Regions from separate parts of the Homo sapiens genome. Here all the other regions are reported to be linked to region 3. The links are microRNA targets in miRTarBase. Many come from high-throughput screens and were not tested one by one. Region 3 holds a microRNA gene; each other region holds the end of a gene's coding sequence.
Evidence for each region. Region 3 holds the annotated microRNA hsa-miR-3529-5p (AGGUAGACUGGGAUUUGUUGUU, at 2,560-2,581, shown strand). A microRNA usually pairs through its seed, bases 2 to 8, with sites in the 3' UTR of a target mRNA and lowers its output. Matches are read on the target gene's strand: a 7mer-m8 pairs with bases 2 to 8, a 7mer-A1 pairs with bases 2 to 7 and ends in A, and an 8mer does both.

Region 1: the mRNA of RIMOC1 is a reported target of hsa-miR-3529-5p. Seed matches in the 3' UTR shown: 8mer at 3,021-3,028 and 7mer-m8 at 2,885-2,891.
Region 2: miRTarBase lists ELMOD2 as a target of hsa-miR-3529-5p. Seed matches in the 3' UTR shown: 7mer-A1 at 3,340-3,346 and 7mer-m8 at 1,149-1,155.

The regions. Positions count from the first base shown.
Region 1 is chr5:41,916,775-41,921,018 of GRCh38, reverse strand. RIMOC1 (RAB7A interacting MON1-CCZ1 complex subunit 1) reads right to left here. Exons shown (of 6, transcript NM_175921.6): 6 at 1-4,003. The coding sequence ends at 3,720. It also overlaps the pseudogene LOC100419715. Among named protein-coding and RNA genes, the nearest start is that of FBXO4, 6.4 kb to the left of the region's middle. RefSeq lists an enhancer at 2,513-2,672.
Region 2 is chr4:140,549,500-140,553,743 of GRCh38, reverse strand. ELMOD2 (ELMO domain containing 2) reads right to left here. Exons shown (of 9, transcript NM_153702.4): 9 at 1-3,514. The coding sequence ends at 3,369. Among named protein-coding and RNA genes, the nearest start is that of UCP1, 17 kb to the left of the region's middle.
Region 3 is chr15:88,610,231-88,614,474 of GRCh38, reverse strand. It overlaps MIR3529 (microRNA 3529), which reads left to right and starts at 2,551; the gene lies at 2,551-2,628. It overlaps MIR7-2 (microRNA 7-2), which reads right to left and starts at 2,650; the gene lies at 2,541-2,650. It also overlaps a transcript of AEN not described here. RefSeq lists an enhancer at 757-1,441.

The sequences.
Region 1 (4,244 bases), not on the chromosome of region 3:
CTAAAAGCCTAGTTAACATCAAAAAAATTCATATTGGGAAAGAGCCATACACATTTAACGACTGTGAAAAGTCCTTTAACAGAGTTTTGGTAACCATGAGAGAATTCAAACCGAAGAGAAACCCCAAGTGTAAAAAATGCAACAAGGCCTTTAGGTATCACTCAACCATTAGCAAAATCCATAGGGGAGAGAAACCTTTTATGTGTAGCTGAAATGATAAAGTCTTAAGTAGTGACCCATTCCTTAATTCAATATCAGAACTTCTGTAAGAAAGAAACTTTATCAATGTGCGGAATACGCAAGGTATATAACCAAAGGAGAGAAATTTGAAGACACAAATGCTAAAGCAGTAGACAGTTCCCAACCACCCCTAAATATGATGGCATCCCACCCCTCTCCCTATCACACTAGCCCCTTACCCTCATTTATTCTTCTTCATGGTACTCATCACTTGACACTCTCTATACATTTATTACTTAAAATGCTTGTCTAACTTCCTCCACTAGAATATAAGCTCTGAAACAGGAGGGGGTTTTAAAAAGCTATATCCTCAGGGTCTAGGATAAAATCTGGCATATGGTAGGCATACAATAGTTGAGTGAATTTAGTGTAGTACTTTCCTTATGTGGGGTATTTGGTACCTTGAGGTTACTTCATTCTAAGTGAATGATTTAGCAGGCTTTAACATATATAAAAATGTGTTCATTATTCTATAATACACCAGAGTAAAAAGCATTTTAACTGCCATGGTCTACAAATTATTCTCCAACTGTGTGGGGGATGGAAAGTTGTATAAAAAGCACCCAGTACTACCCTCATAATTGTACCAACCAGTGAGACCAAGTGGTCTACCAGGGTCACGAAGGTAAAATGAAGTTTCCAACTTCTTAAGAGAAAGTTCTCTTTTCTCAGGTTCAGAATCTAAACACTTTACTCCTCTCAGGATGGCATATATCCCTATATGCCTTGTCAGCCACTGGTATAGAGGGCATAGCAGTTTGGAATCCAATAGCAACAACTTTTTGTGCAAAGTTTGGCATTTAGAATCATGCCTCATTAATTCAAAAACATTACTAAGGGCCTACCATGCATTAAGCACTATGTATACAGGTAAATTTTTAAAATATGGAGTTTACCAACAATAAAGAAAATAATTACAAAGCAGTGTGATCAGTGCGACAACATGGGAGGGGAAGAGTAAAGGACCAGAACAAAGGAGCATCTAATTTGACTGAAAAGGGCTTTAAAAAGCCTATGAAAACAGAATCACTGAAGCTGAGTCCTAAGAGGTAGGTAGGTATTCACTTGGTCACAAAGAAGGATGCAGAAGTAATGATGTGTGCAAGGCTACTGAGGTGGAAAACACACAAAGCGCATTTAGGGAAGAAGTGGAAGTACTTGCAATTGATCAGGATGCTCTAAAAAGAGGGATAGTCTGTGGTTCTAAAAACCGTATTAAAAATAATTTAAATCTTTATACTTAGAAAGCACAAAGGTATTTTCATAAGAAAACTTGCTAAAATGCTAAGTTAAATAAAAATCTTAGCTGTGTAATGATAAACAAGGGGGCTGGGGCAGGAACTGAGAAATTCCCTTTGCCACAGAGGCTCTATATCAGAATTTGTATGTTTACCAAAAGCAGCCTGGATTTTAACTGTTTGAGCAACACTGGACTAGAACATGATTACACAGGATGACTGCAGAGACATGGCTGGGAAGGTAGTCATTCTGTGTTGCCCTGATCTGCGGAAAATCCCAAAAAGAGAAAACTTACAAAGCAGAAAGGATTTTATATAACAGATGAGGACTTGACGTTTGGAAACACTGAGCTTAAAATTACTGTGGGATGTCTAATGAAGATATTTGATAGACAGTTAGAAACAAGGTTTAGAAAGCAAGAGATAAGTCAGGATACAAGTTACAGGTTTGAGACTCAGTCTGTTATTACAGGTGGTAAAAGAAGCCATAGTTATGAATGACATTGTATAAAATATGTAAAGTAAAAAAAAAAAAGAGAGAGAGAGAAAAAAATATAGTGAAGATCAATACCTAAAAGGTAGGCAGAAAGTGAGACAACACTTTGTGGGGAAATGAGAGAGACAGCGAAGATGAAACCAACATGTAGCACAGAGTCGCCTTTGATAGGAAGCAGGCAACCTCTTTTCCTCTAAAATGGGAAAATGAGTAAAGTTGGTAAATACAAGTTGACCTCTTCATAGTCTCAATTTTCTGTTCAATAGGAGAAAGAGCCATATGCTAGGGGAGGGGCAGAGGGCCTAAGGAAAGTAATGAAGTTTGGCTCAGCCACAGCGGGAAATGGGAGAGAGGCCACCCTAGTAACAAACATAAGGTTTACATTGAGGGCTTTTCTAAGGCTGAAGTGAGACACTTGTAGTGATTCTACTTTGAAGGACTACCCATCACAAAGAACTCAGCATCCCCGAAAAGGTAGATAATAAATAGGATTAATCTGAGGTTGAGGGCTTGCCAAAGGACTAGACTAAAAGACCAGGGAAAGAAGAATAACTGGTGAGATTAGTTCATATAGTATCCCATAAAGCTGAGGGTGGATAGGGAAGAAAGCCTGAAAGGGGCTGACAGTTTAGGAGGAAGGGGAGCAGTCAAGAAAAGGGGGTAAGAAGGAACTGAAGAATGTGGAATGAGCATAAAGGAGAGAAAAGTCAATAAAATAAGGAAGTGAAAAAACTGAAAAGAGGGCAGTTATCAGTTACTGAAATTTTACCAGAAAGAGAAACTCAAGGTGGTGACATTCAAAGTGCGGCCACGGGAGTAAGCTGCTGGAATGTAATAAAGTCACTGGGCAGAAGTCCAAGGTATCAGCAAGGTATCAGAAAGATCATCCAAAGATGACAACAGGAGTTGAGGTAGACAGAAAGACCATGAGCAAGATATCAAGTTAGGCTCTCTGGCCTTTAACACTCACCCCTATTATTAAAGGCAAAAAACATTAAAATTTCAGTATGTTATGAAAAGATGTGCTACAAAAACATATGAACTAATGGTAGACTAACCTAGCTTGGTTTTTATCTTCATTACTCACTTGAAAAGCCATGCATTGTCTTTTAAACAAAATAGAAAAATAATTTTTAAATTTTTATAAAATGCCTAAGGGAAGTAGAAATTTTAAATACAATTAGTAATACATGGCAAAATAATTAAACACAATGATTCCTTTGTGAGATCTTTCATTATTTACCTTATTGAAAATGGAATCTGAATATTAGTCATAATCTTTCATTTTGCCTACATTTATATCCATAGTATGTATTCAAAGCAGTGAAGTAACTTGACTTTAATTTCTGAAGCATGGCAAACTTCAAGGTAGTGAGATTTAAAAATAATCTAAAGATGATAAAAATGGTAAACTTGTGTTACATATACCACAATAAAAAAAAAAAGTAATAGAAAAAATCTTTGTAAAGCTAAATTGGGTTACTACTCATTATTAGTGACATAACATCTGTATTTTAAGGTGAGTTTGAACAACACTTTAGAAATTAAAGAATCATCCCTTCATAGGTTTACTAATATATAATGAAAAAGATGGTGATGTTGTTTTAGTAGGGTACCCAAGCTGGATATCTTTATGCAGTGTAATGTTCTCATATTCAGTATCAACAGGTCTTCTTTTTTGGAACTCTCTTTTCCATTTCATGGGTTTTGTTGTTTTTCTATTTGAAAAGGACTAGATGAACTTACTAGTTACAGCGATGATGAAAGAAGTTTAAAATTTGTTTTGCATTCGTTGTATTCCATTCTTGTTCTTTCAGGGGTCCTTCACACACAGATACATACTTTTTCAAGATTTTTTCTCCTACTTCTCGGAAATCCAAGGGTTCCTTGTATGTAGTGCAGCCCGCTCCAGACACACTAGTATCCACTTCATGATTTTCTGGTTGCTGATCAGCACAATACTTCGATCCCCAGTAACACATTTCTCCACTGTACATCATAGCCAGCAGATGAATGTCACTAAATATTCCTGGGAAAGTCATTTAGGTTGACAGATTAGAATTAAAAGCTTAAAAAGAAACCGTAGTTATTAACTAAACTCTAATTAAAGTTCCTTTTGTCATTAAGCATTTTCTATTCTCACTTTAACAGTAACACAAAAGCCAAATATGACTAACACAATCTTCATTTAATTAGCATTTTTTAATATCGATTTTACTGATAAAGGAGGCCCATTACAAAAAGAAAAACAGAGTACCAGAGAATTTTTT
Region 2 (4,244 bases), not on the chromosome of region 3:
CACTTAACATTCCAAACAAAATGACATTTTACACTATTGCTTTTACTTAAGAAGTCAACTGCCTTATCCAAAGTAGACAAAAATCCCAATTCCTTTAAGTGTCCAAGTGGTACTTTTTCCCCCAGAGAAAGCTACTTGAATACTTTAACAGAAACATAGAATCGTCCTATAATAGTAAGGTAGTAGTTGGGTCTAACCTGTACTACATTTAAAACTTTTCTCATTAAAAAATGAATACAGAAAAAAACCCCAAACACCTCCAGTCATCATTCCTCTCAGATTTTTAACAATTCCACTAACCTTCATTAAAAATTGCTTTTGTAGAGAGGTGTATAAATATGAAAATGGAAAGTAAGCCTCCCCACACCTGTTCATAGAGAAGTGGGGTAGAGCATTTATCCTGAGAAAACTGCTGCTGGTCCCTGTTATTTCAAAAAGGATAATAAACATTATGGCCCACCAAGTCAAACCTCCTATCTTCTGTGCCATGATCATGTGTAACCTTTTCTGTTCTGGCTACGAGCATCTACTTTTCACACTCATGCGATTCTTCTCCTTTGAGCAAATCTTTGATGAAGTTGTATTTCACTGAATGTTCTCAAAGGGGAGAAAGAGTGCATGAGCAATTATAGTACTGGAACAAAAGTGAAGAGTACATATATTTTCACGTAGAAAAAATACATACAAATCCAAGTAGCTCCTAAAAATAGAAATCAGATGGGCATTTTTAAGAAAAAGATTGTTTTCTAAACTGTAAATGGTGCCAGTAAGACACTGATTTTTATATCTAGCTACATCACCATATTTATGTACAAAGAGAGGTTGGTATAGGTTCACTGATACCCCCAATTTCTCCCATTTCTTTAAAGATTGTCTTTCAGATCCTATTAAAACCATAACTGTTAATTTTTTAGACTACTTCCTGTCACTGGCACACTCTCTTCAACCTGGCACATACAAAAATTCATTTCAACATCTATTTACTTTTTTGATGCTAAAACTAACAATTTTTCGGCTACTTCAATGCCACAATATTCTATCACTACTTTGGCATTTTACTAATTATTATAGAAACAGGTAAGATTCTAAATATGGATTTTAAGACTATGTAAAATTCCAACTACATATGTCAAAAGGGAAAGTAGGAAGGTAGACACAATTATATTTTTGTTTTCATGTATATCATTGTCATGAGTCTGAAGCCTCATGTTGCATTCTAATTTACAACTGACATTGGTGACAGTTTGCTTGGCTTCTAGACTCAAACCCTAGAATTTATTAGTGGCTTTTAGATCAATTTGCTGTAAAACTATCTGAAATGGTTGCAGATTATTTTAAGCAAAAACAGAATGATACCTATAATGTACAAATGGAGGTGGATTTAAAGAACATATTATTGAGCAAGCTCTATAATGACATTTTCTTAACATCATCATAGTTTTTCTTCCTAGAAGGGAAAAAACTTACTTAAAATTTTCCCCTTCTTTACTTAAAGCATTCTTAAGTATATTGACAAATGTTTAAATCAGTTCAAGCTCTCAGCTGTTGGAAGATCAAAACACAAAGATAAGCATTTTCAACACAAACATCAAAAGATGAACAGAATTGCTTTCCATGTAATAGTTAATACCTTAATACAATGAACTTGTCAGGATTTTGCGACATATTGTATAGCTGGACAATAAAGCATGAAAATATTTTTTAAAAATTAAGTGAAGATATTCCCAAAGTTGAGATGTCCCCTACAAGAAACCAATTTTTAAATTCCTGTAATACTGAAAAGCTAAATTGCCACTATTGTAATAAAGTGAACCAAATTTTTAAAATAATTTTATCTTATTGAGAAACTAATTTTAACGCAAGCACTTTAAATGTATGTGCTATACAACACTGCATCTTATTTTCCAATTGGATATGTCTTACCACTCTTCTAACAAGTTTGAAAGAAAGAGGTCTGTCAACAGACACGAGCAAATACTTATAAAGTCTCAGGTCTTGCTCTATCACATACTAGCCAGTCCTTAAACACTTGATATATACCCACATTAAAAGGTGTGCTAAATATCGTCATGTTTTAGATGAAATTATGTCCTTAAAAGGTTGGTTTCTGTAGGATTTAAGGAGAACTTAAACTTTGCTGCTTTAAACTTTAGTTTTGCTATCAGTACAAATGTGTAAAACGCACCAAGAAGAAATCATTCCCATAAAAATCTCATCACTATATAATCGTTGACAGCACTTGCTGCCCTCCTGAGATTTTAGGAGAATAAAACTATATAAAATGCACAGTCATCAAGTCATCTTCAAGCTATTTTAGTATCCCACAAACCATTAACATAAAGTTCATACATGGTTATCTAAAAACACCATGGAGTCAAAGAGAAGCAAGAGTTAACAGTAAGTCAAATAAACCAATGATGTTTAACTGAGATTTTTTTAAAACTTAAGCTTTCTTAAGTTTCAAAGACAGTTTTACTTAAACAGAAACTGTCTTTTATAATCTTTTTGTCTTTTATATAATCAAGATTTTCTTGGCAAATACATCTCTTTTCGTAAACATACATAGGTAGAGAAGTTTCATATGTAGGTAGAGCGGTTTCATAAGCATACATAGGTAGAGAAGAAAACACTAAGGTTCTTTTCTACAACTGATAAAAAGCAAATACTGAAGATGAGAAAATGCCTTTAAGCTTTCAAATAACACTGTGGCATTTTAAAGTGTGTTATTTAAAAACAAAAAAGCTAGTCACCAATACTGTCATTCTCTCATCAGTTATGCTCAATAATCACAGAAACCCAAAAGGAGGCCCTAATTCTTTATTCTCTCTGCTGTATCTCTGCTCTATTTGCTACTAATGAAGCAACGTTATGACATGTAATTAAGATGCAAACAAAGAAAACCATAAAGAAACACTTGCTGTTAATTAACCTAGAAATAAAAATCAGACAAAATTAAAAACAGCCATTTCCAAACTAAAAACCAAAAAAATCTTAAAGAGCTTTGAAAAAGATACCAACTTGACCCTATAACACATAAAAACGAAAATTGATTTTACACATTTTAATCAATTTAATACAAATACCTGATTTATACTTTTACACCAACGGGCTAAGTCCCAAGTTCCAAACTGTAGTTCGCATGACTCTACAGAGGGGATCTTTGGAAGGATAAGGTACCTTTGGAGAACAGTGTATAAACAATTGTAAACATACACTGATTGTCCACTAGCTTTCTTAAATAGAATTTCTGAAATATTTTTGTAGGAAATTATATATAAGAGTGTAATTGATCAGATAATTCCTATTACAACATATAAATTCTGTTGAATGTGCAAAATGTGGTAGAAATAGAAGATACAGTGGATGATTTATACTTTTAAAGTAAGTGCTACATTACAATCCAGTAAAAGTCCTTTAATCTTTTCATGAAACTTCTCTCTATACAAATTGAAATACATAATGCTTTCTGGTTCTTCTTCAAACCAAAACTTGTCAAATTCATAGACAAGATAACCTGCAGTTAAAGAAAAACAAAACATTTAATCCTCAATGTTGAAATCACATTCAAACCGTCTCATCTTTACAAAGTATATAACCATCCTTTAAATTCCATATTAGAATACAATAATCAAAAGTAATCTCAAAACTATTAGAAGCCTGAGGGACTTAATAAGACTTAATAAACGATTTAGTGTATATTTACTATTTGTCTCAAAAATCAACAACGTCCCTCAAGTTTAAAAGATATAGTACTTTCACCTGGGAGCAGTGACTCATACCTGAACTCTCAGCACTTTCAGAGACTTAGGTGGGCAGATCGCTTGAGGCCAGGACTTAAGAGACCAGCCTGGGCAACATGGTGAAACCCCATCTCTGCAACAAACACAAAAATTAGCCAGGCATGGTGGCATGCGCCTATTGTCCCAGCTACTTGGGAGGCTGAGGTAAAGGTATCACTTGAGCCCAGGAGGTCAGGGCTTCAGTGAGCCGTGATTGTACCACTGCATTCCAGCTTGGTTGAGAACCTATCTCAAAAAAAAAAAAAAAAAAAAAAAAAAAAAAGATGTAGTACTTTCAAAAGATACCTTGAGAAAAGTTTCCCGAGAAACTTCCAAAGCACAAAAATGCAAGTAACGAAAAAATGTTGGATAAGGTTAAAGTGTAGGAAAGTTATTTCCTACTCGATTTCTAAATCTAAGAGTTATTTCTACTTTTTTTTCAATGAACTATCAGCATCTTCTCTT
Region 3 (4,244 bases):
AATTTCAGCATTTGGGGAAGCCAAGGTGGTAGGATCACCTGAGCCCAGGAGTTTAAGACCAGCCTGAGCAACACAGGGAGACTCCGTCTCTACAAAAAATACTGTAATTAGCCAGGGTGTGGTGGTGGGTGTCTGTAGTCTCATCTGATCGGGAGGCTGAGGGAGGAGAATTGCTTGAGCCCAGGAGGTTGGGGTTGCATTGAGCCGAGATCACACCACTGCACTCTAGACTGGGTGACAAAGCCAGACCCCATTTCAATAAATAAATAAATAAATAAAAACAGTAGTAAATTGTCTATTTTGCTGAGTGACCAAGAGATAAGTCACAACCTCTGCAGGCCCTGATTTCAGCATTTTTAAAGTGGGGAGGGACTTGGTCTATATTCATTCTTTCAATATATATTGAGTCCCCTGAAATGGGCAAGATACTGATCTGGAAGGGGAAGGATACATATTTAAATAGGATTAAATTCCTACATGATAGGGGAGACTAATAGAAAGATGGTGGTTTCCATTTTTTCCTATTTCAGGATGGCAGATTTGTGGGTGCACAAGGCTGGTGAAGAGGACAACCATGAAAACTATGAAAGAAAAGGCAGAAGAGACCAATATTGGGTATATACCCATGCTATTTTATATTATGACACTTCACTTGCCTACTTATCGTAATAACCTAGCAAGGTAGATGTGATCAATTCTGTTTCACAGTTGAGGAATCTGAGACTCAGAGATGTTAAGTGACTGACTCAAAGTCACACAGCTCGTAAGCAGTGGAGCCAAGATTGAAACTGGCACATGTTTGACTTCAGAGCCAGGACTCCCCCCACCACTTAACAAAGGCTGTCATATCCATCCCTCAAATCAGGAATGCACCCCACATCCCCCCCCGAGATGCTTGTTTCACTGAGACACAATCTCTCCCCGTTCCATCTCCAAACCAGCCCCAGAGGCTGAGGGCTGCCCAGGAGAGACTCAACTCCCCTCCTCTCCTGTTCTCCAGCTCTGCCCTTCCTGCCCAATCTGGGCTTCTCTCCCGCTGTGAAGGACAGATACCTGCTGAGTGACACCAATTTGCAGACTTCTGAAGTGTAAATGAGATTTCTAATAGGACTGGCTTCCCACTGGCTTCAGGCAGGGTTAGGAGTAAAGGGAAATTTAAGACTGGAAGTGCAGAAGAAGAGAGCCAGTTTGTAGGATAGGGAGCAGCAGAAGCAGAGGCAGCCAAAGTCTCTGGGTAGAAGTGAAGGGCTGACTTGGTTCAGAGAGGTCAAGTGCCTTGCCAGAGGTCACACAGCTAGCAACCGGAAGAGGTAGAATGAGCTCAGCTAATGGTTGCATTTTTAGCATTCCCTAAATGAGTACGATCCCCAACCCCCAACTTTAGTTTGTAATATGCTTTAGTCTCCTCTGCTGTATGGATGGAGGAGGGTGGGAATATACTTAGGAATAGGGAGGGCATTTGGATTTGTTGCTTGAAAATTAATCTCCACTGAAAGTGTCATCACTGTAACTTGGTGCTCACCTTAGGGCAAGGTACCCCCCAGGCAGAGGGATCCCAGGCAGAAAGGCTGGGAGGCCAGGCAAGGTGGCTGATGCCTATACTCCCAGCACTTTGGGAGACCGAGGTGGGCAGATCCCCTGACGTCACGAGTTCGAGACCAGCCTGACCAACATAGCAAACCCCTCTCTCTACCAAAAATACAAAAAATTAGCTGAGTTGGTGGCATTCACCTGTAATCCCAGCTAGTCGGGAGGCTGAGGCACAAGAATCACTTGAACCCAGGAGGTGGAGGTTGCAGTGAGTCAGGACTGTACCACTGCACTCCAGCCTGGGACAGAGTGAGACTCTGTCTCAAAAATAAATAAATAAATAAATAAATAAATAAATAAATAAATAAATAAAAGGCTGGGAAATGCTTTTTCTGATCACTAATTCTAATTGTATTCCTGCCACAGTGGGGGATGGTCCCCAAGCACTGGGCTTTTTTCCCTTGGCCACACCTCTGGATGTAGCAGCACAGAGGCAGGTACTGGGACCAAGAAATTCCATACACACAAGTCCACTCCCTCAGCTGTGGAGCAGGCACCAGACAAGCTCCGAGGTCAGGTGTGTCCCCCCTGCTGCCAGGTACACTGAACATCCGGGAACCTCGGTCTCCAGTGCATACCTCTCGGTGCCCGCATACACTGTGGCTGTCGGGCCACAGACAATGAGGCCCTGAGCCCCAGGATGTGGAGTCACAAGGTGCCTCCATTATAGGTGCCCCAAAGTGATTGTTGGGGGAATTAGTAATTAAGGAGGGTTTTTCTCCCCCTGCCCTTCAGGTAGTGGTATGGAAGCAGTCCACTGCTCCCTGAAAACAGAGACCCTGCCCCACTTCCCTGCTCACACCATAGTTTGTCCATGTTTCTGGAAGAGTCTGCCGATGGGTGTTTAGGGTGGTGACCTGAGATGTTTTCTAGGAAACACAAAAGATACAAAAAAGAACACGTGGAAGGATAGCCAAAAAGGGGGGCTGCCCCCATTTCCTGCACCCCGCTGCGATGGCTGGCACCATTAGGTAGACTGGGATTTGTTGTTGAGCGCAGTAAGACAACAACAAAATCACTAGTCTTCCAGATGGGGCCAGCCGGTCCACTCTGTATCCAGGCCAGTTCTGCAAGGCGTTCGAGGACCACCCCCCTCCCCTCGCCACCAGGTCAGCGGTCTGGATGCTCCTTCAGGCGAGGCGTTGTCTCCGCTCCTATTACTAAGTTCATCTTTGAACACCTCTCCTCACCTCAGAATTCCCTGGAGAAATTATTTTTTCTTACTTTTCCCTTTTTTCTGGAGTGTTCTACTTTCTATAATGGACACAGTTGTTTTGTTTTGTTTTGGTGAGACAGGGTCTTGCTCTGTCACCCAGGCTGTAGTGCAGTGGTGCAATCACAGCTCACTCCAGCTTCAACCTTCCAGACTCGAGTGTTCAAGTGATTCTTCCACCTCAGCCTCCCTAGTAGCTGAGACTACAGCTAATTTTTTTTTTTTTTTTTTTTTTTTTAGTAAAGACAAGGTCTCAGTATATTGCCCAGGCTGGTCTTGAACTCCTGGGCTCAAGTGATCCTCCTGCCTCAGCCTCTCAAAGTGCTGGGATTATAGACGTGAGCCACTGCACCCAATTTGAGCATATTTCCTTTACAAACAGGGGAATTATTTTTAAAGAGAAGCAGGCAAGTGGCTCATTTCTCTCTTTCCTTTACTAATCATAAAGCATTGAACCACCATGCAGAAGAGAAACTAGAGCTTGGAAATGGTGACCCCTCTCTACTGGTGCCTCCCCCTTCTGGAAGCCTATGGGCATGGCCCATGGTGAAAATTCTTCCTGTGGTTACTGAGCCCTGGAAGCTTCAGAATGAAGTCAGAGTGGTGGTGCTGGGGTAAGCAGAGCAGGAAGAGGAAAAGGGGAAATGGTTGTGGACAGGAGGCTGGTGGAATCCTGGCCCAGTCATCCCCTCCCTGCAGGCACAGCGCTGGGCTCCCTGGTTAATTTCCCTTGCAGTGTGGCACTGGTGGAGGAGAGGCAAAGCCCCTGCTGCCTGGGCCAGCCTCTAATTGCGCTGGCAGGACACATCCGCTCCTTAATTAGCAAAAGCCACAATATCCTGGCGGCTCAGAGAGCATGGCCCTAATTGTATTTCTGCAGCAACTGAAGGATAATTACCCTTCCCTATTGGTGCTGCTTTTAATTCTTTCTCTTTTTAATTGTGAGCACTTCCTCTTTAGCCCACCCTTCCATCCTTGGGTTTATTCTCTCTATCCAGAATGGGGGTGGGGGCTTGCCTGGTGATGGAGACGCTCAGGAGCAGGAGGAGTGGGGGGAGTCATGGAGAAGACTGGCAATACCTAGCTCTGAGTCCCAGCCCCTTCCAGCTGTCAGCCTGAGACAGGGCACATCTCTGCCATGGGTCTGAGAAAAACCAAGAAGTTCTTTTGTGGAAGATGTAAGGGAGAGGTGTTCCTCCCCCAGAGGCTCTTTATGACCCTCTTCAGTCTACCCCGCAGTGAGGTGCTGGCTCTGAAATTCCCAGCTGTAGAAAACTGAGACCTCCTTTCCCCATCCTTTAATCTATCAAGAAACAGAGATGGATGTGTGGTCTTTAATTTCTTTTACAAAAAAAAAAAAAAAATAGCCCCGTGCCTCTTTGCCACTGTTGAGAGGAGGGTTAGTCCTTCAACCTTGAATTGTTTTAGAGACAAGGACCTG